Linked DNA regions of Homo sapiens. The protein of the gene in region 4 interacts with the protein of the main gene of each other region in a pairwise test. Each region holds a gene or a part of one and is shown on either strand. Other genes may lie near its edges. The genes, in order: FAM107A, B4GALNT4, CTNND2 and HTRA1.

Region 1 (7,022 bases), on a different chromosome or scaffold from region 4:
AAGTTGGCTGACTCTAGGAATCACCTAGGGAGCTTTTAAAAATCCCCAAAGCCAAGCCGCCCCCCAAACCCATTAAATCAGAATCCCTGTGGTGGGACTCAGGCACTGGAATTTTTGAAACTTCCTGTGGTGATGCCGATATGCAGCCAAAGTTAAGATCCACTGATTTAACCAGTGTGGTTTCTGAGGATGAGAAGGCTCCATCTAGGACTAGGAATGGGATTTATTAATAGTGATTGTTAATAGCAGCTAACAGGGTGGTCACACTGCCATTCCAGGGGCACCATTCACAGTTTAATCTATAGGAGTTGAGGACTTGCTGTGAGGTACCCAACCAGCCTGTTGTATGTGGCAGCCCTGGTAGCCAGCCCCAAGCGCTCAACTCTGTACGAGGCATTTGCCAAGCACCTTGCAAGTATCACCTCGTTTATGATATCACAAGTTCATGGAGGAGGATTCTAATGTAACGCTCATTTTGCAGAGGAGGAAACACCAGATCAAAAGCAGCTGTCCCATCTCAACTCTGCTGTTCAGTGGGAAACAGCCATAGACAATAAGTGGGCGTGGTGTGTCCCAGGGCTGTGGGATTTGGTCCAAAGGCTGTAGTTTCCAGGCTCCAGCTCCAGAGGGTAGGGAGGCATGGACAGAGCTGACATTCGAATGCAAGTCTGAATGGCTTCAGCCTCCCTATGCTACTGCTTCCTCCTGCATTTCTTTAACAGCCATGAAGAATACAAACAAGCCACTTACCTTTCTCCTTCGTGATTGGCCCGCTCCTCCTTCTCCCTGCTAGCTCTTCTCCTGGGTGTTCACCTTTTTCTTTCCAGAGAGGACATGTCTAATGCCCACTTCCCCTCTTAGCTGCTCCACAGCCACTCCCCGGATGGACCCCAGAGTCTTGGATCTCTCGGGATGCCCAGAAGCCTTGGGAACAACCCCAGTCCTCTGCCTCAGGAGGCCCAGCTGACCGCCCAAGACAGCCTGGATTTTCTTGGCCTGCCACCTGTGCTTTATTGAGTAGTCTCTTTTATAACAGGACCTGCATGAGGTTCTTCCACCCAGAGACCTTGGTTAAATAAATTAAAAGGCAGAAAGGCTGGCTCAGCTTTCTAAGTCCTGGGGGTCCCCAGCAACCCTCCTCACCCCACCCCTCATAGGTGTATACGTGGATCTCACAGGGGTTGTTTGCTGGGGTTCAGCACCCTGAGTGGCAAAGGCGATGGTTTTTCCCCTGCAGCTCTGAGCTAAGGCACCAGCCACATCCCTCAGGGTTCCTGCCTCACCCACCACACCAGCCTGGCCTCAGGGAAATACCATCATCCACAGCTCACTGCTGATTTAATTAATTTTTTTTTTAAGGCCTGGAGCAAGTCATTGAGCCAGGGCTGACCACAGATTGGAGCTGGGGTGCAGGACTGGCTTCATAATTGACAGGGCCCAGTGCAAAATAAAAAAGGAGTGCCACTTGTTCAAAATGCATTTGGAATTTCAAGACAACAACAACAGAAGGTCAAACCAAACAGGGCCCCTCTTCCAAGGGCAACCCTGTGTGACTGAGTCCGACCGTCTGGCCCTGGGGCAGCCAACCCACTGGCTGGCCGGCAACTTACGTATGGGGCGAAGGTCTCAGCCAGGTCAATCACAGATTTTTCCCCTGGAAGTTAACAGAAGAGACAGAGACCACCCATTGGAAGTGAAGGAAACCAAAGTCAAAACATCCCAAGGCCTCTGATGGTTTCCCCACACAGCAGCGAGAATAACCTTTTTATAACTGAATCAGGTGCGCCTTTCCCCGACTTGAACCCACCCGTCCACCCTCACTCCAGGCGCTCTCCCAGTCTCTCAGCTCACACCACTCCCAGCACACTATGTCTTTTTGTTCCCTGAACAGACCCAGCTTGTTCAAGGTACATGAGTCACACATGCTGTTCCCTAGGCCCCAAATGGCCTCCTTCCTCATTCTCAACTGTCAGATCTTAATGTCGCCTCCTCAGAGAGGCCCTCACCACACCTGGCTGACAGCGGGTCCCTCCTTAGTCTCTATGGGAGCCTGGAGCCTTTTGTGGTCTTTCGTTTTCATTGGCTTGTGTGTGTGCTGACTGTTGGCCTCCCCAGCAGAGTGTGGGTTCTGTGAGCGCCGGGATCTCACTTGTTTAGTTCTCCTCTGTGTGTCCAGTGTCTACCACAGTGCCAGGAAAATCACAGGAACTCGAACATGTGTGGAATGCATGACTATTTTTATTATTACGCACTTTCTCAGTGGTCATTCCCGTTACTCAGGAGCTCTTGATTTTGTGTACTTATTTTGTATCTGGCCACATTCTTGAACTCTCTCAGTTTCAAATGCGTTTCTGTTCATCCATGTGGGAATTCTGGGTGTATGGCTTTATCTATACAAATATTAAGGCTGCCATCTCCTTTCCTAAAGTTATCCAACTTATTCTATTTCCTACCTTATCACTTTGGCAACATACAGTGAGTTCTTTTAAGGATGGTGTGGCTGATGAAAAGCAAGCAGCTCTGGAAGATTTGGGGGGCACAGAGGGACTAAGAACAGGTGAATAGCTGGGGAGCCAAAGTAGTTATTAAAGTGTGGCATGAGCTGAACAGGAAGAGAGCTGAGGTCACGGGAAGGAAAGAGCGTAGCTGAGAATTACTCAGTCAAAGGATGGGCGACACTTGACAATAGGAATAGGCAGCAAAAGAGAGAAGATCTCAAAGCTCCAATCTGAATCCAGGTGTTCTAATACGTAAGCACCCAGAGAGCTTGATCCCACAGACAATAAAATACCCACACTAAGGAGTGGGAGCTGATACAGCCAACTATGTATTTTGTCGAGTGCCCATTTTAAAGTAACTCTAAGTACTATTATGATCACTTTTTAAGGACCAAAAAATTAGGAAGGATATAACCTGAAAGCAAACAGCCTTATGAAAAAGATGAGAAAAAAAGGGAAGTTAATAAGAATTCTCATTACAGAAATGGTTCTGAGAATATGAATTTGAGAAAAAAATTAACATGTCTATCCTCTGACACTTCACCTGGCTACATCCAAAATACCTTATAATAATTAACACTTTTTCCAGGTTACACAGCACCTTTACGTATGTGGTCTTACTTGCTCCTCCTAACAGCAGCCTGTGATGGGTCATCATAGAAATGCCAAACACGGGTCTGGTGGCCACCGTTGCAAAGTACAGTCTCCTGTTTTATGCCCAGATTCCTGACATATCACCTTGCAACGTGCACCCCGTCAAACCCCCCTCTCTGTATTTTCTGACCCCAATAAGCTGTTTGCCACTTTCAGGTTTTCACACATCCCTGTTCATCCATGAAACTGCATTTGGGCAGAGAATGGTTCTCATCCCCTTCCCAGTGTGGGGGAGGAAATGAGAGTCTGTCCACAGGCAACATGGTGGCCCTCAAGCAGGGGCTGAAGCCTGGTGTTTGAAATGGGGACACACTCCCTCAGTTGCCACATGAAAATCACATGCCACCGGGCACTGGTTCCCCAAGACCAAAGAAAACTTCAAAAGTTGCATTGGCAATTACCAACAAATGTGTATTGATCGCCTACTGCATACCAGACCAGACACTGCCAACTGTCAGGGCCTGGCATATAATAGGAGCTCAACCTCTGCAAAGCTAGACTCATGAAGAGAGCAGAGCTAAAGTCTAAATTTTCACTGAAATTCCTATAAGCAGCTAATGGCCAGGCAGTGTCTATACCTTTGAGGCCTTTTTTTTTTTAAGTCAGTCTCTTTCTCTCTCTCTCTCTCTCTCTCTCTCTCTCTCTCTCTCTCTCTCTCTCTCTCTGCTGTATTTGCTTTTGGGCATTTCAAGGATAAGGAGCCAGTTTGTAGAAGAGGGAGCCCTTGTGTCTGAATTTTAAGTAAACTGACAGATTTCAAACCGCTGTGGTAGAAGTGGGGCCATTGAGTAGCCAAACATTTGACAACTATCCCTTTGCTATTAGGGACACAGCAGTCTCTGAATTTCATGCTCTCCTCTTTGATGTGAAGAAAATGAAAAGCTGAACAGTTGTGGAACTGTGGATAGAGTTAGACAATAAGGGTAATACTTTCTTTTTATCACTGCATTTATCCAAATTGTTTTTAACAAGTACATGTTACTCTTTTTAAATATATTTTCCTTTTCTGTTACAAGCTCATTGAAAAACAGAAACTCAAACATAATTCCTTTTATAGTGGGCGAAAACTGTTGCAAAGCCAGGCCAAAAATATGCATGTGTCAACCCGTATTTTGTGACCCGTTATCATTTTACTTCTATACTCCAGACACATCGCAAACATCATCTCCAATTCTGACAGCCCTGTGCATGCGTTCCGTTATGATTTCCATTTTATAAGTGAAGAAACTAAGGCTCAGAAAGTCAGGTAGCTTGCCCAGGTATGCGCAGTAGCAGGTGGCCAAGGTCCATCTGACATGAAAACCTTGCCCTTCAACTGTGTCCCATGGGGCAGGGTGAGATTATAGGCTCAGCTCTGAGCTACTCCTCTGCCCATCTCTACAGCCGCCATGTACTCGGAGATCCAGAGGGAGCGGGCAGACATTGGGGGCCTGATGGCCCGGCCAGAATACAGAGAGTGGAATCCGGAGCTCATCAAGCCCAAGAAGCTGCTGAACCCCGTGAAGGCCTCTCGGAGTCACCAGGAGCTCCACCGGGAGCTGCTCATGAACCACAGAAGGTAGGGATGAAGCCCTGCTGCCTGGGCCCCGCAAGCACCTGGGCCTGTGGGGGATGGGGAAGGTGACCCTGGAGGAAAGCAGAGCTGGCTTTCATCCTGGGGCTCCTGGAGACTGAGGAAGGCTGAGGTGCCCCACATGATCACCGGCAAAACCTGTAAAGACCCTGTCCCCAGTGGGTCCCTGGGAACCAGAGGGACCAAAAAGCCCTGTTCTCTTGCCCAGCCACCCATTTCATGCCCACACTCCAGATACATTTACTGAGTACCTACTATGTGCTGGGCACTGAGCCCAGACCTGGGGATACAAGAATGAATGGGACCCAGTTCCTGTCCTCACAGACAGGGACGGGTGCATAGCCAGGCAGTAGGATGGGTGCATTGATGAGGGCATAAATAGGCCTGAGACCCCAGAGGAGGAACCCGAGAGGGGTCTAAAATGACTTCACAGGAGCGGTGCTGCCTCAGCTATGACCTGAAGGGGGACTGGAGTTAGCCAGGCCGGAGGTGGGTGCTGGATGGCAGAGGGAACCTCATATGTAAATGAACAGGAAACAGGAGTCACTCACTGTGCCTGGGGCATCGATTGCGTGGTGCAGGCCAGGGCAGAAGGATGGACTAAGGAAAGGTCTACAGCAGGGGCACAAGGTGTGGTGGGCCCGTCTGGTGAGGTGGGATGGGGGAGCTCACAATACCAAAGTGGGCAGGAATGTTACAGAGGCCCAGGATGGTGGCTGGCTTTTCCGTGGAAGGCCGTGGTGTGCAATGACAGAGACGAGCCAGAGGGGCATCTGGGAGGTGGCAGGGGTGGGATGGGGCAATTGATGGGATGTGAATTGGAGAAGAGGAAGGCTGAGCCTCCCCTTGGAGGACTGGGAAATACTCCTGCTAACCAGTAACAGCGTGAACGCAGCGGTGCCTTCAGAGCGCCCTCTGCTGGCCGATTCTGGTATTAGAGCCGGTTGTGATTTCTATTCTTGTTTTCAGTTGTGTGACCAATATCCTAACAGTTATCATTTTGTACACTGAGTCGCTTTTGTTTTTGTTTTCAATTAGTATTATAATATGAGCATTTTCTCTGAATGGTTTTTAGACTCGTCCCTTTAATATCAAAAAACATCACCACAATCAAAAACAAAAGCTTAAAGACAAATCAGAGAAAGTATTTGTAATATAAATAAATTTTATTTTTAAAACTCACATATACAAAAAAAAATTCAGATCTCTTGTTTTTTTTCTTTTTTTCTTTTTTTTTGTTTGAGATGAAGTCTCGCTCTGTCGCCCAGGCTGGAGTGCAGTGGCGCGACCTCAGCTCACTGCAAGCTCCACCTCCCAGGTTCATGCCATTCTCCTGCCTCAGCCTCCCAAGTAGCAGGGACTACAGGTGCCCGCCACCACACTCGGCTAATTCTTTTGTATTTCTAGTAGAGACAGGGTTTCACTGTGTTAGCCAGGATGGTCTCGGTCTCCTGACCTCGTGATCCGCCCTCCTCGGCCTCCCAAAGTGCTGGGATTACAGGCGTGAGCCACTGTGCCTGGCCCAGATCTCTTACAATGGACAAGGAAAAAATGAATAAAAAGTAATACAGTACAGCCAGACATGGTGGCTCACACCTGTAATCCCAACACTTTGGGAGGCCGAGGCAGGAGGATCACTTGATCCCAGGAGTTCAAGGCTGCAGTGAGCTATGATTGCACCACTGCACTCCAGCCTGGGCAACAGAGCAAGTCCTTGTCTGTAAAAATAATATTGATAATACAGTTAATTCACAAAAGAAGAAATGCAAATGGCTGGTAAACATATCAAATGTTGTTCCATGTGACTAATAAAGAAACAAATGAAAAGCAGATATTCTTTCTGGCCTACCAGATTCTCAAATATGAAAAGATTGGCTGGTGATGGTGGGGAGAAATAGATGCTCTTGTACACTGTTCAGAGGAGGATACACTGGATAACCTTTCTCAGGCACAGATAGATATATGTACCTCAAATCTTTTTAAAGAGCCTGACCCAGCAATTCTACCTTTAGGAAAGTATCCTAAGAAAATAACCAGAAATAACATAAAACTTGGTCTCTGCAGTCAAACAGGCCTGGGTTCAAATCCTCATGTGGCCTACCTGTAGCTATGTCTTGGACTGGTATCTTCAGCCCTAGGAGCCTCAGTTTCTGTCCCTGTAAAATGGGACAGTAATGGGTCCACCTCCAAGGCTACAGGGAGGATTGCACAAGATAATAATGGGGGTTGGTGTCACCGCAGGAAGCAGCCCTGAGGCTGGGGGAAGCGGGAAGGTGATGGTCTCCTGACAGCTCCCC
Region 2 (7,886 bases), on a different chromosome or scaffold from region 4:
TACACTCAGACACCCTGGTCACTCTAGCCCAAGCAGATGCTTGGCCACCCCACACACTGACCGGCCGGCACATTCATGCACCTGCTGCAGCCCCCAGACACAGAGCTCCAGACAGGATGGCTGGTGCTGGAGCTCACACAGACAAGCTGTGCCGTGCCCCACATGTCCTGTGTCTCATGCCCCCTGCTGCGTCCTCCAGAATGGACAGGTTCTCAAGACACCAACACACAAGTGGCTTCGGGGTCTCGTCTCCGTGCACACGTGTTCTCCCCAGGGCTCTGCTCACCGCTTGCTCCTCTTCACGGCTCTCACTGGAGTCCTCAGCCCTCTGTGTGGATGGCGCAGCGTGGACCCCCCGGCCGTCGGTCTCACTGGTCAGCTTCTCACCATCTGCAGGTGGCACATGAGGCCTGTCTCGGGCCCAGGCTCTCTCCAAGGCCATTCTGCCTGCTGCTGGGTTCAGCTGGGCCAGGGACCCACATGGCCAGAGCAGGGCAGGCAGGCTGTGGTGTCTCTCACTAAAGCCTCTCCTTCTCATCTGCTTCCTCTGCCACCAGATGCCCCTCCCCCCAGCAAGGCAACTTCTTCTACACCCCACCTCTGGTGGGGCAGCCCAGGCTGAGCCTTCCAGCAGGCTCTTCCCAACCTCCAGCAGGTGTGAGGGAGGAAAGCCGGGTGGGCCAGCTGGCGTGTGTAGGCACCCACATGCACCTCCATCTGGCCATTCTTGTTGAGTGGCTCTGCCTCCAGGAAGACCCCAGGACTGCCCTGTGCCCTCAGCACTTTCTCTGTGTGCTGGAGTGTTCCACGTCTGCCTCCCTTACCAGAACTGAGAACTCAGGGTTAGTGCCAGGGACTGTAGTCTCTCCTGAAGGATTTGAGCTCTCAAAGTCTGGACTGAGGAACAGGCATGGATGCTGACGCCCAGGCATGGCCCTGGAGCAGAGGGTGGCCCTGGATTGAGTGTCCTTGGGTAGGAGGACCAGGAGGGGCAGAATTGGGGTGAAGAGAAGCATCCCTACAGATGCTCAGATCCCAGGGCGTGGAACCCCCTGGGGCTGCAGTGGGGATGTCTAGGTCCTCAGCTTAGGGAGGTCCAGGAAGTGGAGAGGGCTGGGGTGCAGAGCTGGCCTGCCCAGGCTTGTGGGGAGGCAGTAGAGATGTCCACAGGCAGATCTGGGAAGGGTCCCCCAGGGCTCCCCTGACTTGGGCCCCAGGTCCCCCGACAGAACAGTCTGCTCACTCGCCCTCTCCCTGGGCAGCTGTTGGGCTCCTCTGGTCCTGGCCCTAGCCTCAGAGGTAGCAAGTGTACAGGTGCCCTGGGGCGGAGCTGGCTTAGCCTCAAGGGGTCCTTGGAAGAGGGGTCCCTATGCCTCCGCCCCCTCCTGGTTGGGCTTAGACCCCTGCGCTGCTCAGAAAACCACAGAGGAGCCTGCAGAGGGGGCTGGTTTTGTTCTGTGTCACTGGGCCAGCTGTGGATCCTGCCCTGTCTGCTGATAGCTGGGGTGGGGCTTTTTAGGGATTCAGCAGTATCGGGGGTCTCTTGAGGGTGTGGAAGCTGTGAGGTATGTGGGTTGGGACAAGCCCCAGACCCTTGGCCTGTGTGGGTCCAGGCGTCCCGGTACAGGAAGAGAACACAGGGGCTTTGGCAGGTGGAGTGGCCCAGGAGTCCCCAGCCAGTATCATTGTTCTGCCCCCTCAGGACACCTGGCTCCCTGGAAAAGGCTCAGAGGCAGCCAGCTGGGGTCTCTCCTGGTCTGGGCATGGCACTAACCTCCCTCCTCCAGAGGGGGCATTCTGCCCCACCTTCTCCCCCAACCCCACCGCCAGGCTTTCATCTGCGCCTTCCTGTCTGGAATGCTCTTTCCCCCAAAGGTGTATGTCAAAGATCACCATCTCCAGGAGGCCCTACCCCGGCTGGCTCACCGTGACCCCATCTGCTTTGTTTGTGGGTTGGGGTTGGGAGAGTTTACGCCAGGCTCCCCAAGCTGGGCCCCATCCCTACGCATGGACCCCCACAACACTGGCACAGTTCACCGAAGGCGCCCCCGCCGGGAAGCGTCCCAGCTGCACCGGCCACTTCAGCAAGCCCCGGCCCGGGTCCCCAGCACACAGGGAAACTGAGGCCCTGCTAAGCGGGCAGGGGGTGGAGGCGAGGCCTGAGAAGGCCTCTTGGAAGCCTCAGCAGGGTCTAGGGGCAGAGACTTCCCCAGGAGCCCACCGTCAGCCCCTCACTACCGGATCCAAGCCAGATCCCAGAGTCAGGGACCCTCTCTGGGAGGGTCGCGCGCGTCACTGCCGACGTCATCGAGCGTCCGGGCCGAGCCGAACCGCGCCCCCTCCCCCCAAATCGCAGAGCGGAGAACAGCGGGCGGGGTCTCCGGGAGGGTCGGGCCCAGCCGAGACCTCTGTGCGGTGGGAGGCCCGGCCCGCGCCCCGGGGCCCCCGCCGCCCGCGCCGCCCGCGCCCCCCGCGCCGCCCGCGCCCCCCGCGCCCCCCGCGCCGCCCCCGCCCCCCGCGCCCCCCGCGCCCCCCGCGCCGTACCTCGCCCGTAGCCCAGGCGCTGGCGCAGCGCGCGTCCCTGGCGCACCAGGCCCAGGTGCACGTAGGTGAGCCACGCGGCGCAGCTCAGCAGCAGCAGCAGCAGCAGCAGCTTCATCTGCTTACGGATCTTCTTCACCGGGAGCCGCGGCATCGCGGCCGCCGCGCCCGCCCCAGGCCGCGCTCAGCGGCGCCGCTGCAGCCCCCGGCCCCCGCCCGCCCCGCGCCGCATCCCCGGCCCGCCCCGCCGCGCTCAGCGCCCGCGGCCCCGCATGGTCCTTTGTCCGCCGTGCGCGGCCACCGGGTGCGGCCGCGACCCCCCCAGGCCGCCCTCGGCCGCGGGCCCGGGGTGGGCGGCGGGGGCGGCTCCTCGCGGTGCCCCCCGCCCGGCCGCTCCCGGCTCCGCGCTCCTGGGGCGGCGGCGGGACCGAACAGCATCCACGGCTGCCACCGCGGATCGGGCCCCGGCCGCGCGCGCGGAACCAATCGGACCGAGCCAGGCCGCGGGGAGCCAATGGCGGCGCGCGGGGAGGGGTGCGGGGCGCGGGAAGGCGGGGCGGGGCGCGGGGTGCGGGGCGGAGGAGGCGGGGCGAGGGGAGGCGGGGCGGGGCGGGGGGTGCGGAGGGTGCGGGGCGGGGGGTGAGGGGTGCGGGACGGACAGGGATGCGGGGCGCGGGGCGCGCGTCCACCTGGGCCACGGAGCGCGGGGGCGCGGCACACAGACGCGGGGCTGGGAAGCGCTGGGGCTCGGGGACCGTGGGGGGCGGCGGGGGATGGGCACAGCCTGACTGTGGGGCGGGGCGGCCTCCCGAGAACAGTGACCCGAAGGACTGCAGGCGGACAACACGGAGGAGGGAGGGGAGGGACCCGGGGTCCTGGGGGGCGGGGAATGGGGGCGGGCGAGAGAGGCCGGGGGGCGGGGGGGCCCAAGCACCGGCTTCAGCCCAGGGGTGGGAGTCGTTGCGGGATCTCAGCCTGCAGGGCTGGGGCCGCAGGGGGCCGAGCTGTCTGGGCGGCAGGAGGGGCCTCAGCTGGTGGCCCCCGCCCCACCGAGCGCGGCCTGAGGCAGGTGACAGTGTCGTGCCTCTCACCGGGACCTTGTCCCACTTCGTGCCCTTTCTCACCTGGTCTGCACCAACCCCTGCCAGTCCCTCTGTCCCCCCAGTACTTCCCTTGTCCAGCTGCCAGCGTGACCCTACTCTTCTCCCTCTGTCTGCTCAGCTGTCTCTGGGTGTGTAGCAAACCGCCCAGCTTCAGTGCTGTCCAACAGCAGCGTTCCTGTGTTCCTGTGTCCTGTGGGTCAGGAACTCAGGGCACTCGGGGACAGCTCCTCTCTGCTCCTCGAGGTGCTGGCCTCCGGTGGGAAGACGTGAGTGGTGGGGCCGGCTCCGCGGGACAGGCTGGAGCCATCCAGAGACTTCTGCCCCAAGCCAGTGCACCCTCGGCAGGAATGGCTGGGCTCACCCCGGGTGGTTGGCCAGAGCGCCTGCAGGCTCAGCTGCCAGGGGCAGCCTCCCGGTCCAGCACACAGAGTGAAGCATCTTGGAGTCACCCCTCAGGTTTGCCACATGCCGCACGGCCACCCAAGTTCGTGGGTTGTGGGGACGTGGACCCCACCTCACAATGGAAGATTGCCCAGAAGTTGCCTTCTTAAGACCTCAACTCCTTCCCTCCTTCCCCTCCATCCTCCTCCCCTAACTTCTGAGCACAGAAGCAAGCTGGTTACATCCTGCTGTTCATACCGGCCCTTAAACAACACCCGGTCTCTCAAACCTTCCCCCACCCCATCAGCTCCTCATCTCCTGCCTCCTGCAGTCCACTTTTCATATTTCTGTTATCTGCATATTCATTAAAATATAGTGCCCCACCCCTTTTTGAGACAGGGTCTCACTGTGTCTCTGAGGCTAGAGTGCAGTGGTGCAATCTCAGCTCACAGCAGCCTTGACCTCCTGGGCTCAAGCGATCCTCCCACTTCAGGTTCTTGAGGAGCTGGGACTACAGGCATGCATCACCATGCCGGACTAATTTTTTGTATTTTTTTTTTTAACAGATTCAGGGTCTCACCATGTGTCCCGGGCTGGCGTTGAACTCCTGGGCTCAAGTGATCCTCCCGCCTTGGCCTCCCAAAGTGCTGGGATTCCAGGCGTGAGCCACTGTGCCCGGCCAGTGGTGCTCTTTTATGTGTCTCATTCTGTTTCTCCAAGTCCCATATTTTCTATGTGCATCTGTCTGGCTGTGCGTCTAATGCTTTCCCTCTTTCCACTGCATGGCACCCCATCCTAGGCACATTCATCCAGCCAGTGGACGCTACCTAGTATTCTAGTGTCCTGACGAGCCAGGGACTTAGGGGACACAGCAGTGAGCAAGACAGAAAAGGGCCCTCCTTTCATGGAGTTTACATGTTACTAGGCAGGGACAGACCAGTGAACGCATAGTCGCTTTGCTGGTGGTGAGTGACGTGAAGGAGATGAGCTGGGTGATGGAGGGAGGCCGGCTCCCGCTCCAGGGTCGCTCTCTGGGGAGGCAACGGCTGGCCTGACCCGTAAACAGGTTCTTAGAAGGCAAGTGTTGGCAATGTCGGGAGAGACGTGTTTGGGACACTTCATGGGTCCACAGTCAGAGGGTGTCCCCTGTGGATCCAAAGCATAGTAGGTACAATTGAGGGGCGAGCTGGGATCTGCCGGACGCAGATGCTCCATATGCTACCACATCCGTCTCGGCCCCTTCTGGAGAAGAACGGCCACCGCCTCACTTCGGTGTGACCCAGCCACAGAGGAGAAGGTTCTGGGAAATGGGTCTCCAGCTTAGAATAAGAGAACAACCTGGCCGGGCGCGGTGGCTCACGCCTGTAATCCCAGCACTTTGGGAGGCCGAGGCGGGCGGATCACGAGGTCAGGAGATCGAGACCATCCTGGCTAACACGGTGAAACCCTGTCTGTACTGAAAATACAAAAAATTAGCCGGGCGTGGCGGCGGGCGCCTGTAGTCCCAGCTACTCGGAGGCTGAGGCAGGAGAATGGCGTGAACCCGGGAGGCGGAGCTTGCAGTGAGCCGAGATCGCGCCACTGCACTCCAGCCTGGGTGACAGAGCGAGACTCGGTCTCAAAAAAAAAAAAGAGAGAACAACCTGGCAGGTTCCTCCTCTTGACAACTCAGCACAGACGCACACTTCTTTTAAAAAACACATTTAACTTCCAAATAAAGCAAAAAACAAAGTCATGCTTCTACGTAACATGATGCAAATATTCCAACCAGAAGGGACTGAACAAAAGGTTCGTGTCATGTTATCCACATTTGAGAAGACGATCCTCGTTCTTCTAGTTTCTCTAAGAGCGTTTAACACTTGACACTGCAAAGTGCATGTTGGGGGTTGGATGACACAAATACTGAGATGAAATGTAAAGTTAACTGTTGTTAACGCATTTTATGCAGCTAGGAGGGCAATGGAAGAGGAAAAAAGCAGGAAGAACGGATAATGTCAGTACAAGTGTGACTTGTGTGAGGATAAGAAGTACTCACTTCTACGGTCACCAGGTCGTGGCTGGTACAGTCTTTATGGCCACGCTCTTCCGTCACTCCTGCGTGGTCCCTTTGCCCTCTGCAAGCACCTCTGCTGGTCGTGGTTCACTGTCTGGTGGGGTGACCCAAACGTTCCTTCCCAAAAGGCCTATGCTGTTAGCAGTTTTGCCTTATGGGGTGGTTCTGGTTTTCCAGTGGTGTTTTCTGCAAGGCTTAGAGGAGCTACGTGATATTACAGACGATCTCCTGCCTCCCAAATTTCTCCCCCTTAGCCCCATTCTGTGATCAGGTTCCAAGTTCCCCTTGTTGGGCTCAGTCAGCCGGACCAGCACAGGGACCCTCTTCTTTGTCGACCCCCTGGTGTGAGGAACCGGCGTCCAGGTGGGCAGTCTCAGCTTCCTGCGTAACGTGTCCCCTGGTGGAAACACTCCAGGGCTTTCCCAGGACCGAGGGGATTCCTAGGACATGGAACTTTCCGTTTTAAACCTGGGAAAGTCGGCTGGGCGCGGTGGCTCACGCCTGTAATCTCAGCACTTTGGGACGCTGAGGCAGGTGGATTACCTGAGGTTGGAAGTTCGAGACCAGCCTAACCAACATGGAGAAACCCCGTCTCTACTAAAAATAAAAAATTAGCTGGGCATGGTGGTGCATGCCTGCAATCCCAGCTACTAGGAAGGCTGAGGCAGGAGAATTGCTTGAACCCAGGAGGCGGAGGTTGTGGTGAGCCGAGATCGTGCCATTGCACTCCAGCCTGGGCAACAAGAGCAAAACTGAGCCTCAAAAAAATAAAAAATAAAAAAATGAAAATAAGACCGGCAAAGTCTTAAGCAAACTGGGATGAGTTGGTCCCTGGGAATCTGAGGCCTCTAGACCAACAGCGTGCAACACTGCAGGGGGCAAAACTTTCACTTGTGGCTCACTGGGGATTAACGACAATGGGAAGAAGTTGGGGTTTCCACTCCTCCACGCCTGGACCAGTGAGCCCCGGCTTTGGGAAAAGCCAGAGATTAAGTGCTGATTCAGTGGATCCGCTGCATCCAGAGGACCCCAGATCCACAGCATTGTCACTCAGCTGGTGCCAAAACTGAGCCTCCCAAAGGCCATTCCATCAGGAACACGGCGAGATCTGTGGGTTCCAGGAGCACCGGCCGGTTGCTGTCCCCAGGACAATGGCGATGCCGCCATGAGGAGCACCCCGTGGGTGGACGAGGAGCTCTGAATGTGTGGGGTGGTGGTTTGGGCAGAGGCATTGAGGGCACTGACCATCCACAGCTGGGGTGGGAGCCCATCCTGCTGGGACAAGCATCCTCCATGGTGGAGGAAGGGGCCAGTGTTGGTCTCCGCTGTTGGCTGCGCGGTGCCCAGGGTAATCCGCTTCCCACTGCTACAGCCACTTGGCCCGACTCAGGACAAGGGGAGCTGGGGAAAGAGGCTGCCTGATGCGCACAAATGGGTCATTTTGTCCGTCTGACTATTAGGGTCCCTCCTCTGCTGAGACAGGTCTTTGCACACAAATTCTTTATGCTCTGCCCACCCCAAGAGGTCTGTCTACATACCTTCACCCCGACCGTTTCATCTCTAACTTTGTAATCGTGCCCCTCCAAGTGCCTGGCCATCAGCTAGACGGTCGGCCGTGGCCGGGGCGTCCACGGAACTCTGCCTCCTCCTCCATCCTGCTTGCTGCTCGGCCCTGCGAGGACCTGCCTTTGCACCTGTCGTGCAGGCCTGGCCTCCCACACCCAGGTGAGGACCTGCCTTTGCACCTGTCGTGCAGGCCTGGCCTCCCACACCCAGGTGGCGCTGCCGTGCTGGGGCGCCCACTTCGG
Region 3 (7,022 bases), on a different chromosome or scaffold from region 4:
ATTTAGGTACTCATACTGGGTTGGCACTAATAATTGTCTACCTCAAAAATTCTATTTGAGAGAGAGGCAGTGAGTGAGAGAATATTTTCATTTCAGTAAACGTAGCTAGCATAATTTTGTGGGCAGTGGCACCCTAGCCTGCATCCTGTTAGGCCAGGCCAGTCCACACTGGCAATTACTGTGCTGAATTAAAGAAGCCCTTGGCCACCTGCCTCATGCATGCAACAAGCTCCTTTTTTAAATCCTATTTATCTTCACAGTCATCTATTTGTGTCAAGAAAGGAAGCATATGAGCACAGCATCTGTTACTAGAGTGACACAATTACCAAATCCTTCTGTAAGGGAAAAAAAATTCACAATAAATCCGGGTTAGTTGTCAGGTGTTTCAGAAGACAAAACATTAGTCTTTCAATCATGGTGTCTTGTTTAAGCTGAGCATATGGTGCTAACAGCAGAGAGGCACCAGCGCAGCCTGGTCGCTGACGGGCATAACGACCACAGAAATGTCACCTCCTCTAAACTGGGAGAGGAAAGCAGGTTTCTCTCCCCAAGCCCAGCCCCTCCCTCCCTGTAATAAAGCAGGTACAAATTTAAGGGACTTCATCATTGCTAACTTTGTCGCAAATGTTAGGACCCAAGTACATCCAATGACAGGTATGGGAGAGTCCTTTAGTTTTCCCAATAACTAATTTAGCAAAGATGTAAATAAATTCAAGCCAAAACAAAAGGGTAATAATTCAAGGCAATTCATTATTAATTATTTCCCCACTACTATTGAAAACTATGTAAGCTGAACGTCTAATTTGAGAAAATCCCTTACTTTTTCCACAATGAAATGTAGACAACTAAAGGTGACCCTGTCAATACTGCAACTGTTACTTGTTTTGCTTTTTTTCTGGATACCATCAACAGGTCTATGGGATGCTTTCCTAAATGTGTCTTACTTTTATGAGTTAGTCTTTAGGCTGGGGAGAGGGCAGAGAGAGAAGAGAGGAGAGAAGAGAGTGATATAGGTGTTAGAGATTGAGACACCACATTACTCCGGAAAAGAAGTCACTGACAAACTGTAGGGAAGATACTGACTTGTTCCAGGAAAGCCCTGGCGTTCTCTGTCTCCTGCAACTACTACAACCTGGCAGACAGCGCGCCCGGCTTCGCTTCTGCTCAAGCCGGGCTGCTGCTTCCGCGTCCCCGCCACGCGCCCAGGTGAGTCGCGCCAGGTGGCAGCGAGCCTTTACCTGCCAGGCTGCCCGGCCTCTGGAGGGTGGCCGTGGCATACAGCTCCTGCGAGTGCTTGCTGTACTGCTCGGACGCGTGGACCAGGCGCTTGGTGGGCGACAGGGTGGCGTACGTGCCGATGGTGGAGCTCAGCTGGTGGATGGGCGAGGAGGAGATGGTGGACTGCACGGTGGGGGGCGAGGTCACGCGGATCGGGGACAGGCCGGCCGAGGACACGACGATGTTGATGGGCGAGCTGGTGCTGTAGGACTTGGCCAGGCGGCTGGGCGACTGCTTGGGCGAGGAGCCGCGCGGCGCGGCGTAGGTGGCGCCCTCGGGGGCCGAGCCGCCGCGCTGCAGCTTGGTGGGCGAACCGCCCTGGGGCGCGGCCAGCGGGGAGCCCCCGCGCGGCGGCGCGGGCAGCGTGGAGCTGGAGTAGTAGAGCGCGGCGGCGGCGGCGGCGGGCGGCGCGTCGGGCAGGTGGAAGGCGCTGCCCAGGCTGGGCGCGAACGGCTCCCGCGGCGGCGGCGGCGGCGGCGGCGCGGGCTCGGGCCCCGCCAGGTGGCCGGCGCGGCTGGTCGTGCCCTGTGCCCGGGAGAGGAGAGAACACGCGCACTTAGCGAGGGAGAAGCACACGGCCCACCCGGCCCAGCCCGGCCCCGAGAGCAGAGGCACACCGGGGATGCCGCGGGCGCCCGGCGGCTCTGCGATCCCAGCTGCGCTCGGGGCAGTACGCGAACCTGCGCCCCGAACTCTCCTGGGGCGGATTTCTTGTCCTGACACTGGCACAGGCCAGCTGACTACTGGAGGGAAGTCACGTTTGACAAATGAGACCTGTGTTTGCTTACATGTAGATGTTATTTCGGAAATAGCAGAAGCATCGCATTAGTCACATAAAGATTTTTAAAGCCCCACCCCGACAGGGCAATCATGATCTCCCTGGTCGCAATCACAATCTGTTTGTTTTAATGAGAAATTCGGGCAGTAAATCTTTTTCTGTCCCCCACTCCCCACCCTTGCCCCAGGTCATTTCATTAGATACACTTTCTACCTCTGAGATTGGCCGAGTTACATACTTATCTGGAGAACATCAAGAATAAACATACTTCTTACAGTTTATTCTGTTGCTATTGTCGCGTGGATTCTTCTTTTTGGACAATGAAAAGTTAAACGGAGGGAAAAATACTAAGTCAGAATGAATTCGCTTCGTCTTTTCAGCATTAAAAAAAAATCTAGAGGAATTAGAGCAATTGGAAATGAGAATGCTAAAAAAGCCTCCCTTTTCTAGATTTTAATACTGGGCTCCCAATCTTTCAGCATCTTTCTCTCTCTAGCTCCCTTTAAGAGCCCCCTGCAGCTGTGTCTTCAAACTGAAAGCCATTCGCCTCTCATTTATTTACAAGAACACAAAAGACAACAAGGGCTGGGGAGGAGCTGGAGAGACAGTTGGAGGGGAAAGCACTTTCCTTGAATCTTGTCCAGAGACAAATTTGCATTCGAATGAAAACACTACATTGTCAACCACTTCTGGGCAGGAGGTCTCAGATCTTCCAGGCTTTCCCCGGGGAGCAGAGAGGATTTTGAGAGCCTGCTGGTGTGAAAAGGGAGTAGGATTGTACACAGAGTTGGAGAGAAGCTGGGAAGGAGGGATTTGAAATGAGGGATGAGAGGTGGGTGGGGAGGAGGACTCCAGAGAGATCGAGGGAAGGGAGGAAGAGAAGATTGAACAGATGCTAGCCATTAAAAGTTTCAATTATGCCTCTCTACCCGTTCTGGAATGGCAATTGGCAAATAATAGACTGGGCACTTTCACTGCACATACACAGGCATTCCAAATTTTATCTGGGATGTCAAGTTCATATGCAGATCTGAAGGAGTTAATTGAGCAACATCAAAATTCTCTATTAGGAGCAGCCTGGCATAGGAGGTAAACAGTTTGGTGAGAGACTTTCTCTATGCAGAGTGTGTGTATGTGTATGCATATGTATTTATGTACGGTATATATATTTTAAATATTCTCACACACACATGCAATCCATAAAGCAATTATTTTAATGTTAAGAGTGAAAGTAAAATGTAAGCTCCATGAGTTTGTTCAATGTTGTGTCCCCAGCAACTAGAACAGGGCCTGATTCCTAGCAGAGACTCCAGGAATATTTGTGGAATGGTTCCTCAAGTTAGTCTCAAGGCTATGAGGGTCTTATATGTGGAGGATGGGTAACGAACACTACAGATGTGGGTGTGCTTACTCTGAGCCCCAGAGAAATAGTCTAGCTTCATCCAGAGTCATTGAGGGGGTGGCTTTGATGCAATTTTGCTTCTCTCCCAGTGGCAGCTCTGAGCATGAAACATGTATTAAATAGATTGGGCTTCTCAAATCTAGTTGTATATTATAATCTCCAAGGGTGCTTTTAAAAAAAATCTCAATACTCATGACTTACCATTGCTATTTAATTCAGCATCCCTGAAGGTGAGACCATATATCAGTTTTTTTTGGAAGCTCAGCAGGTGATTTCACTGTGCAACCAAGCATGAGTCCCACGTCCCGCTAGAGCAGTGGTTTTCAAAGGGAGGTCCCTGATGGTCTTTTCAGCATTAAAAAAAAAAAAATTCTAGAGGAATCAGAGCAATCAGAATCATACCCCCACCATAAACTGAACAAACTCTGGGGGAGGGGCTGAGGGATCTGGGTTTTAACCAGTACTCTGGGTGATTATGGTGCTGGTCAAAGTTTGCCAACACTGCTCCAGAAGACACTTGGATTTGGAGGGTGCGGAGTGGGCCCCAGAGTCTGCATTTCTAACAATCTCCCAGAGCAGGCAAATGCTGTTGCTCTGAGAACTACCACTAAGCTGCAGACATTTTTCTTCTGAAGCTCTACTGGGGTTCCCTATCAACTGGGGCCTGAGCAACACTCAGCCATGCAGAACACAGCTGGCAAGTGATGGAAAAGCATCCGACAAAAATTTCTGAAAACCCTTCCCACAGGAACAAAATGAGAAGAAAGAACCCTTTCTCTAAGGTTTCAGGAGCACTCTCTGCTCCCTGTTTACAACAAAACAAAAACTTTTTGTTATGTCTTGGCTATGTAACATTAATAAAACAACCTTAGAGTACACTAACGATGCCATTACCAAATAGCATAATTTTTAATAAATACTAACTAAAGCATACCAATGTAAATGAGAATATTAAGTCGGTATTCATTCTAATATTTAAATATTAGAACATATATCCTGTGAAAACCTTAATGCTTTTTACAAATACTTTATTTTTCTTGTAATCTGTCAAAACATCTAGTCTCAGGTGTACTAAGTGCTGAATACGACTGTCTCCTATGTTTTCTTAAATGCACCCCAAATCTGTAGAAGTCTTGACAACTGCCACATGAGCTGTAGACATTTTGACAAGCTACGGCAACCAATTTGAAAGTCTTTTAGATATTATAGGATCTTGGTAAAATTGTGCTAATAATTTTGGCATGAAAAAAGGAAAAGTATAAACAATAAAATTTTATATACTGTTTAACATAGTAAGTGGTATTGTCCACTGTGTACTAAAATGCACTTCCAAAAAAGCCTCCTGAATCCATTTGCATAAGAAGCCATTATCAACTAGAGCACCTTCTCAGGAGCACCAGCTACACTGGTGTGTTACCAGCAATGCTTTCTACAACGTAGAGAATGTTCTCAATCCGTACTGCTCAATATGGCACCGCTGAACACATGGGCTGATTGACAGCTTGAAATGTGGCTAATCAGCTGAGGAACTTCAGTACATACTTAACTTTAATTAAGTTAAACAGCCACATGTGACTAGTGGCCACCTTCTTGGACAGCACAGTTGTCTAAGCTCCTCTGCAGTTTACAATAAATAAACCAGGGGTGCTATACTCCATTTCAATGGCTTATAGAGTAATAAATGCCTAAGAACTATTCTTTGGTTAAACAGAGAAATTTGTTTTGTAGCATCATTTGAATAAAAACAAAATTTGGGGGAGCCTCTTTTCACCCTTGTGCTTATGTTTTCTTTCACTACCGAATTTGATTTAGTAACTCTTTGTCAGTTAAGGTTACCTGAGGCTGTCATTCAAGCCAGCTGCACAATCATAGGACAGTTTATTACTACCCATCGTTGCATTAGAGATAATCGAAACACATTCCAACACATACAGAATTGTATTCACTTTAGTGTCACAAGAGTTCAATTCTACCTTAAAAGTATGTTAGCACTATAAAGCTGCAAATCTGATTTTAAAGTTAGAATTCAAGTAAAGTTTCATTTTCCTTTTTTAAACTAAAGATTACTACATACTGCTTCCCTGCAGATATTTGGAAATGTGTGTGTACATGCAAAGACAGTTGAAATAATTTTTTATTGATGTGTGACTCTGAAAATAAAAATAATGATATAACAAATTTAGATATACTTGGAATAGATTGGGCCCCATCCTTGGTCACACCATCTAGGCTGTTGGCAGAGACAATTCTTGACTCTGTCTTCATTCTCAGCTCTTTGGATCAGTCTCAGCCTCGAGGGCAACTTTATTTGTCTTTCCCACTCCTTCAAAATGAGGAACCCATTTACGAGAAATGGACAAGGAAGCAGAATGTTCACAGATAAACAACCCCATCAAGGAGATGTTCTGATTCAACAGTTTCTGATAGGTAGAGTATGGTGCACATTAAGTGTAGTTCAGTTCTTGTTTCCCTTATGGGAAATTTTTCAAGAAAAATATGGAACATTAACTCATCAAAGCTATTACAAATTATTTTATCTGTATACATATGTTTCAGATGGGTCAGATTTAGGATATATTCAGTGTCACAATTTTTACATTACATGGTGTGTGTGTGTGTACTTAGTGGTATATTGAGGCCTCTTGTGTAATTGTAGATGCATTGATATCTATTTTATAGAACTGTTTAAGGGGAGGATGTATTTACAAAGTATAGTAGAAAAAATATTGAAATGGGAAGTTAGGGAATATGTACATTATTCCAACAGCCATTAATGAACAGTACTCAAGTTTGATGCATTAATTTACTCACTGACTCAATAAACCATTAAGAAGAGCCTACTACAGTCTGGGAATCCCTACTCTGAAAATCCAAAATCTGAAATCCAAAAATCCCAAACATTTTGAGCACTGACATGAATGTCACAGTAGAAAATTCTACACCTGACACCTTTGCTTTCTGATGGTATAATGTACATAAACTTTGTTTCATGTACAACATTATTTAAAATGTCATATAAACTTACCTTCAGGCTATGAGTTATGTATGAAATACAAATGAATTTTGTCTTTAGACTGGGGGGGAGTCCCATCCCAAGAAATCTCATTATGGATACGCAAGTATTCTAAAATCGCCCCCCGCCAAAATCTGAAATCCAAAACACTTCTGATCCCCTGCATTTCAAACAAGGGATGCTTGACCTGTCTACACCATGTACAAATGAGGAGTTTGTTTTTGAAGAGCTCTCAACAATTCCCTTATATGGAGTATTTTACTTTGATGTTATTTTGGAGATCTATCGATGGAGTATTTTTGTTTGTACAGAATACTATCTGGCCACAATTAAGACACTGTTCTTTGGGGGAGTAGGAGCCCCTAAGAATATGGCACTCTTAAACCAGAAAGTGGCACTCGTTTTAGTGCCAAGCACATTTGCTTCCAGATTCTTTCACGCTGAATCTTCTATGGAGGGAGTAGGAATGGCAGAGGAGTCATAAGGGGACAATTCTCAGAACTTGAAAATTTATTCAATCCTCATTCTTTGGGGATCTGGCAGTGCAAACA
Region 4 (7,022 bases):
AGGCTGCTCAGTGGACTGAGGCTGGAACTGGGCCTTCCAGTGGCCAGGCCAGATCCTCCTTGATCTCCCTTGTTGCTTTCCTGGTGGGAAGACCCTGGAACCACTTTATGTGACTGTGTGAGAAGGGAACTGCCTCTCATTTTACCCAGCAAAATCCACCTTCAATCCATCTTCATTTTTGCCCCTGGTGTGGGCAAATTCTCCCATACCTAATTCAGGAAGCCAGAAAGAGGAAGTGAGTTAATGATCCTTAGTGGGAAGGCGCTGGTAATGGTCCTTCTTGTGAGAGTTTCTGAAACACCACGCTGTCTCTGTGTTCTGGCCTGGCTGGAGTTAAACCTCTTCTTGGCCTTTCCCCAGGAAGCTGGTCTGAGGAAGCCCAGATGCGTTTGTTTACAGCTGTCTGGTGACATTCGCCAGGCTCTGTTTTCAGAAGGAACATTTCCATTCCCTTATTTACACCTCCCATTGGAGTGCTCGGGGGGACACACCAATTATTTGCAACTACCTGGAAACCTAGGAGGGTAGCAGATCTGTAGGAGGCCAGTGTTGAAGTGAGAAGCTGTAGATCTGGTGACACTGTGGGCTTGGGAGGGCTTGCCCAGATCTGTTACTTATACTCTCTATTAAGAAACTTCAGTGTCCATGGAGAAGTTATTTAAAGTCTGCGAGCCTCAGTTTCCCCATATATAATATGGGAAGGATACCTGATTTTCCTATTCCACATGAAGGTAGAAAAAATTAAATTAAGGCAGCCAATGAAAGGGTTTTGAAAGCAAAAATAATAATATGATACTGTTCTGAATTTGTTAAATTATTCTTCCAAGTAGTTGCAGATCTTTTTCTGTACCTTAGAAAAAAACCATGCTATGTAAAAGGAGATGATTCCAATCTTTAAATAAAGCAACTCAGAGGTCAGGGGCTAGGACAGAAAACGGCCCTTTGTTCACAGAAGCGCTCTCACTTCCAAGAAAGCAAGCGTGGGAGAGGCAGGTGGTCCTCCCGATGTCCCTGTGCCCCATGGTGTCAAGCTGGGTTACTATGGCCCTTCGTGACCCAGTGCAGCAGGGATGTGGGAACCAGTGGGTGTGAAGCTGTGACGGGTCACAAGAGGGCTGGGACGTCTCACAGCTTTTACTTATAGCCTAGAGCCTGGGGAAGGGTTGCCACTCTAGTGATGAGAGAGGCGTGTGTGTGTGTGTGTGTATGCGTCTGTATGTATGTGTGCATTTGCATGTATATATGTGTGACTGTATGTATGTGCACATCTGTGAGTATATGAATGTGTGTGGAAGTGTGTATAGGTGTTTATGTGACAGTTTGTGTGTAAATGTGGGTGTATGTGTGGGTGTGTTTATGCATGTACATCTGTGGGTGTGTATGCATAGTGTGTATGTGTGAGTTTGTGTGTGTGTGTGCATTTGCATCTCTGTGTATATATGCATGTGTGTTAGGGGCAGGCACACAGGCCTGTTGGTAAATGAGACACAAAATACCTACAAAATACAAAATGTGAGACAGGAAATACAAGCCCCAGTTACTCATTTTTCAGTGCAACAGACATAAGATTACCATGTGAAATTGCTATGAAAGTTTCCGAAAGCTTCCTGTCAATTCGTAGTGAGCAGCTAGCAGAGGAGTGCGGGTCCCTGGAGCCTGCTTGTGCAACGCTGAGCTAGTCCAAGGGGGAAGAATGGGGTGCATGGCTCTCAGCTGCAGACCAGCCTGGAACCTCTCCAGCCTGCTTTAGCAGAGACTTGTTAAGAGGTAGCAGCAGGTGGCAAGATTAGGAGCCGGAGTAGTAGGCTAAGGCTGCACTTCCAGGGACACACTGCCTCTGCCACCACCCGTGCCACGAAAATGGGAGCCCAGGACCCTGAATCTCTAGCAGTCCGTTTCTGAATCAGTTACCTTGGGTATGTGCCTCTGGTTGATGGAAACTAACTTGTAGCCCTGCTGGGTGAGAGCCTCACATCGGGACATGTGACAGCTTTGTTGAAAGTAGCTTTGGAAACGCCCACCACGTGGGGCCACTCACTGTAATATAAACGGTCATGCATCACTGAGCAACAGGGATACGTTCTGAGAAATGCGTCGTTAGGCGATTTCATCACTGTGGGAATGTTACAGAGTGTGCCTACGCAAACCTAGATGGCAGAGCCCACTCCACACCTAGGCCAGATGGCAGAGCCTGTTGTTTCTAGGATGCACGCCCGTACAGTAGGTTACTGTACTGAATACTGTAGGCAGTTGTAACAATGGTGAGTATTTGTGTATTCAAACATAGAAAAGGTATAGTAAAAACAATGGTGTTATGGTCCGCGGCTGGCTGAAACGTTATGTGGTGCATGACTGTAGGTATAAAGCATTACAGTTGTTTGATTTTTCTCTTTTTCTCACCCACAGTCTTAAGGCACCTCTTATGCCTTTTGTCTGGGATGTCCCGGGCAGGGTTGGAACGTGTGGTTAAGGCATGGCGGAAACTGCTTTGGGGACAGACGATGGCCTCAGCTTGCCTTGGGGTGTCAGTGGGAAAGATAGGAGCTGCCCCTTTGCCTTCGTGTTTCTTCGTAATAATCTCAGATGTACCCGTCTGGTGGGCCTCTCCTAGAAAAAGCCCCGGTGCTCTTTGCTCCTGCGGTGTTTCTCAGGAGGGTTGTTGCTTCTTTGTAATGGTGGGGACTCAGGGAAGGGACGCAGGCAGAGGGTGATGCCACATCAAAAAGGGACCCTTGGCTGGGTGTGGTGGCTTACGCCTGTAATCCTAGCACTTTGGGAGGCCGAGGCAGGTGGATCACCTGAGGTCAGGAGTTCGAGACCAGCCTGGCCAACGTGGTGAAACCCGGTCCCTAGTAAAAATACAAAAATACAAAGGTGGTGGGTGCCTGTAATCCCAGTTACTCAGTAGGCTGAGGCAGAAGAATCGCTTGAACCGGAGAGGTGGAGGTTGTGATGAGCCAAGATTGCGCCATTGCACTCCAGCCTGGGTGACAGAGTGCGACTCCATCTAAAAATAAACTGAAAAAAAACAAAAAACAAACTTGGGCCATCAGCTTCTTGGAAAGGCTGGTGTGAGGTTGAAGCATTTGCTGGTGCCTCTGCTCAACGTTTTTGTGGTGAACCTGAGCAAAGAGGTTATCATTAGTGGATTTTACTGCCTTACCTGGGTGGGCACTCCCTTGGGAGGTGGATGGACATTTGCAGCTGAGCCCAGGTGGGGGAATTGCGCTCACTCCGCCTTCAGAATTCCAAAGGCTGGGCATGCATCTTGGCTTCCTCTAACCCATGTCTTTCTCTAGGTGGCCACAGCAGAGTGTCATTAAGTATCTATTCTTTGCTTTTGTTCTCAGGGCAGGAAGATCCCAACAGTTTGCGCCATAAATATAACTTTATCGCGGACGTGGTGGAGAAGATCGCCCCTGCCGTGGTTCATATCGAATTGTTTCGCAAGTAAAGAGAGCCTTCCTTTTTCCTATAACCTCCGAAGCTTTCACCGCCACTAGCAAAACATGAGAGCTATTTTTGAGATACATTAAAGTGTCAAAGTGTCACTGAATATCTTCCTACTTAAGATAAGTGTGTCTCCCTTAGAACATTTTCCCTATTCGACTATATAAATCTACATTCTTGACCCTTCTGAATGTTTAAAGAACCTCGGGCTCTGAAGAGATTCTCTAAGAATATTTTGTAAGTGGAAGTTTTTGATGCATGCAAAAAATTGGCAGGATGTTTAGTGTTTAAATGCTAAGCCCGATATATAAAGGAGCGATGGCTAGGTGTGTGTGGCTGTTGCACAACCCATTAATCAATGCGTTGAAGCGTTCATTTTAAGGTGCTACAGGCTTAAGTGTGTACTCCTTTGGATTTTAGGCTTCCGTTTTCTAAACGAGAGGTGCCGGTGGCTAGTGGGTCTGGGTTTATTGTGTCGGAAGATGGACTGATCGTGACAAATGCCCACGTGGTGACCAACAAGCACCGGGTCAAAGTTGAGCTGAAGAACGGTGCCACTTACGAAGCCAAAATCAAGGATGTGGATGAGAAAGCAGACATCGCACTCATCAAAATTGACCACCAGGTAAGGGTGTTCTCGCCTGCAGAGGTGAGTTCTCAGATGCCCCGGAACACCCTTGGCAAAGGCACCAGAGCTCTCTGATTGCAGCTGATTCTCGGGGGGCACTGAAGCCAGTCTGAGCCAGTCACAGGAGGGCCTTGAGGAGATGCTGAGTATGGCCTGGGGGTGTGGGAGAGGAAGGGGCTCAGGAAAACTTCTGTAAGGAGCCAGATAAAAGTTTTTAAAATAATGTTTTAAATGTTTGTCAAAGAAAGCAATAGATTTGTAAAGAAATTAGTAGGTAAGTAGTGAAAATTGATTCTCCTTCCCATTCCCAATCCTGTGGCAACTCTTGTTACAGATTTTATTTATCCTCCACAGATACATCATGCGTTCACAATGAACATAGAATTTACTGGGTTTTAGACTGAGCCATCCTTAACTTGTCAACAGTTACTTTGAAAACAAACCAGCTCTCCCAAATTGGGGTTTTGCGGGGTTATGAGATGTGTTTCAAAAGAATGTTTCGTACTTTAAACATCTTGGAAAACTTGAATTAAAACAGAGCTAATGGATTTCTTCTTTCCAGACCTTCTCAGAGCTTTTAGTATGCTAGTGTGCACGTGGCTTGCCTACAAAAGGGTGTTGACTGAACTATTTGCCCAAATTATAATCATTTGAGTATACAGCTTTTTGTGGGGGCAGGCAGAACTGAGACATACCAAAATCAGTTTGGGAAATGCTGTATTTGAAAATGCTTTCTATTTAAATATTCTCTTTGCAATCATTTTTGCTCTGTTGATTTGCTTAGCAAAGTCTTCATGTCTGGGACAATATCCATTTCTTACTGACTCATCAAAAACCCCCACTCGACACGTCGATGAGAGAGGTTTTGTTTGCTGTGTGGCATGTTCAGTGAAAGCGTGGTTTCCAGTTTCTTCACATCCTTATAATTTTCTAGACTTCAGATGGAGGGAACAATCAGAGGAGGCTGGAATCCTGCCTCTGACCAAGGAAAAGACCAGAGGCTGAGCCAGGTGGGGTCTCTTGTCCAGCCCTCTGCTTGCCTCGCTTTACCTGGGTGTGGGCTGAGTAATTCCAGACAAGCGTGGAATTAATCTGGCTGTTTGTGCTGTTCAGTGGCACGCTGGTTACACCTCCTTCTGGAAACAACTCTGCGTGTGCTGTTTGGGTGGTAGGATTCCGGGTCTCCTTCTCCGTCTTTTTATAACATCAAGTTGCTGCCCAGCTCAGGCTCCTTTACGGCCAGTCTTCAGAAAACCACCAGCTAACACATTTACTACCCTCCTTCCCCGATGTTCCTGTAGCTTCTCTATGGCTGGGTGGCCAGGCATGGCCGAAGAGGCTCTGGGTAGATATAGGCTCTGTGCCCGGTGTGTGTAACTGGCCTTGAGTGAGGCTGCAGTTGTGTGTTATTTCTATTAGGTCACTGTGGAATTTCTAGCGACAACTAATCTTTCAAAGTGTGTTTATTGGTCACAGGATTATTGGGCCAGCCTCTGCCTTCATTCTTTTTCACCTAATCTGCATAATAGCTGTGTTATCCCCATTTTAGAGAAGAAGAAACAGGGGCTCAGAGAAGTCTAGTAACCTGTGTGAGGCCACACAGCAAACACCTCATGACCCTGCCCTCCTAAGGCAGCCCATGGCTACTGCTGGAGGGATAGAGGCCGGCCCCGTGGTTTGATGGGACAGCTTGACCTTAAACAGCCCATGGGAAGGCGGGTGCATCTGGTTTAGGAACAGGCTGCTAGAAAGGTATCCAGGATGTGGTAGTCTCACCGGAAGGAGCCAGTCAGAATAGCACAGCCTGTGGCCACGCGTGGGACCTGTTCAGCCTCATGGAGCTTTGGGAGGCAGCCAGCAGCAGGGCATGGGCTGTGTGCAGGCGAGGCGCTGGCCTGGACGCCGCCCCCACTGCGTAACTTCGTGTTTGGAATGCGTGGGCACATACCGTGCGGCTGCTTCTGGCCGGGGGATATTCTTTTCCAATTTTGAGCCAAGGTGGAGACTGTCTCCTCGTGCCATCCCTGGCATGTCCTGGCAAGACGTGAACGATCTCAATAGACGAGCTTTGCAGAGTGTGTCTGACCTGACTCCTGCTGTCTTGGGAGTTTAGCTCTTCAGCCAGCAGCATGCTGTTTGACATGTGTTTCAAGCCCCCCAAGAAAGGGTGCTTGAAATTTAAAATTGAACTGATGTGGCTTTTCAAAATGGAATTGGAAATGAAAGGATATTAAATTGCAGACACCCACACAAAAGACTGGTTTCCACTGACTAAACTGCTTTTTTTTGCTGATAGTAGTTGAAAGTAGGGAGAGTAACAGCATCTCTTCCAGCTTTTTCTCTTTTGTTCCCTTGTTTTGATGATGGGTTATTTCGGGGGAAGCTCTGGCTGGCCTTGCTTTGTGTCATCTTAGGGATAACAAAGAGGATGAAAGAGATCAGGAAAACCGAGAAGGCAGAACAGAACCAGCAGAAACTGTGCTTGAGGAATGAAAATCACCTACACGGCTCCTTGTCATATGAGACTGTGGCCCAGCCTCCTGCAAAGCCATTTAAGAGTAACCCAGTGAAGCTGGTGAGACTGCCTGCCGCGTCCGTGGGCCCAGTGACTAACTCGGTGGCTTATCATCTGGGCCCAGCTCCTCCCCTGGCATCCTGATTTCACTTGGAGGGGCCCCCGTTGTCCTTCATAAACATGTTTATTTCATTTTATTTTTATGTTTTGAGACAGAGTTTTACTGTTGCCCAGGCTGGAGTGCAGTGGCGCCATCTCCGCTCACTGCAACCTCCACCTCCAGGACTCAAGTGATTCTCCTGCCTCAGCCTCCTGAGTGGCTGGGACTACAGGCGTGCACCACCATGCCTGGCTACTTTTTGTATTTTTAGTAGAGACCGGGTTTTGCCATGTTGGCCAGGCTGGTCTCAAACTCCTGACCTCAGGTGA

What was found.
Region 1: the proteins of HTRA1 (region 4) and FAM107A interact in a two-hybrid assay, tested with the Homo sapiens proteins (one study listed by BioGRID).
Region 2: the proteins of HTRA1 (region 4) and B4GALNT4 interact in a two-hybrid assay, tested with the Homo sapiens proteins (one study listed by IntAct).
Region 3: the proteins of HTRA1 (region 4) and CTNND2 interact in a two-hybrid assay, tested with the Homo sapiens proteins (one study listed by IntAct).

Annotation. Positions count from the first base shown.
Region 1 is NC_000003.12:58,567,379-58,574,400, reverse strand, and holds part of FAM107A (actin-associated protein FAM107A), read left to right. Parts: exon of another isoform or gene 1-1,066; intron 1,067-1,610; exon of another isoform or gene 1,611-4,075; intron 4,076-4,535; coding exon of another isoform or gene 4,536-4,540; coding exon 4,541-4,710; intron 4,711-7,022. UniProt on the Homo sapiens protein: Stress-inducible actin-binding protein that plays a role in synaptic and cognitive functions by modulating actin filamentous (F-actin) dynamics. Mediates polymerization of globular actin to F-actin. Also binds to, stabilizes and bundles F-actin.
Region 2 is NC_000011.10:364,613-372,498, reverse strand, and holds the start of B4GALNT4 (N-acetyl-beta-glucosaminyl-glycoprotein 4-beta-N-acetylgalactosaminyltransferase 1), read right to left. Parts: upstream 3,001-7,886; 5' UTR 2,696-3,000; coding exon 2,545-2,695; intron 2,293-2,544; exon of another isoform or gene 825-2,292; intron 391-824; coding exon 287-390; intron 1-286.
Region 3 is NC_000005.10:11,383,427-11,390,448, forward strand, and holds part of CTNND2 (catenin delta-2), read right to left. Parts: intron 1,804-7,022; coding exon 1,239-1,803; intron 1-1,238. UniProt on the Homo sapiens protein: Has a critical role in neuronal development, particularly in the formation and/or maintenance of dendritic spines and synapses. Involved in the regulation of Wnt signaling.
Region 4 is NC_000010.11:122,485,552-122,492,573, forward strand, and holds part of HTRA1 (serine protease HTRA1 precursor), read left to right. Parts: intron 1-3,350; coding exon 3,351-3,450; intron 3,451-3,870; coding exon 3,871-4,075; intron 4,076-7,022. UniProt on the Homo sapiens protein: Serine protease with a variety of targets, including extracellular matrix proteins such as fibronectin. HTRA1-generated fibronectin fragments further induce synovial cells to up-regulate MMP1 and MMP3 production.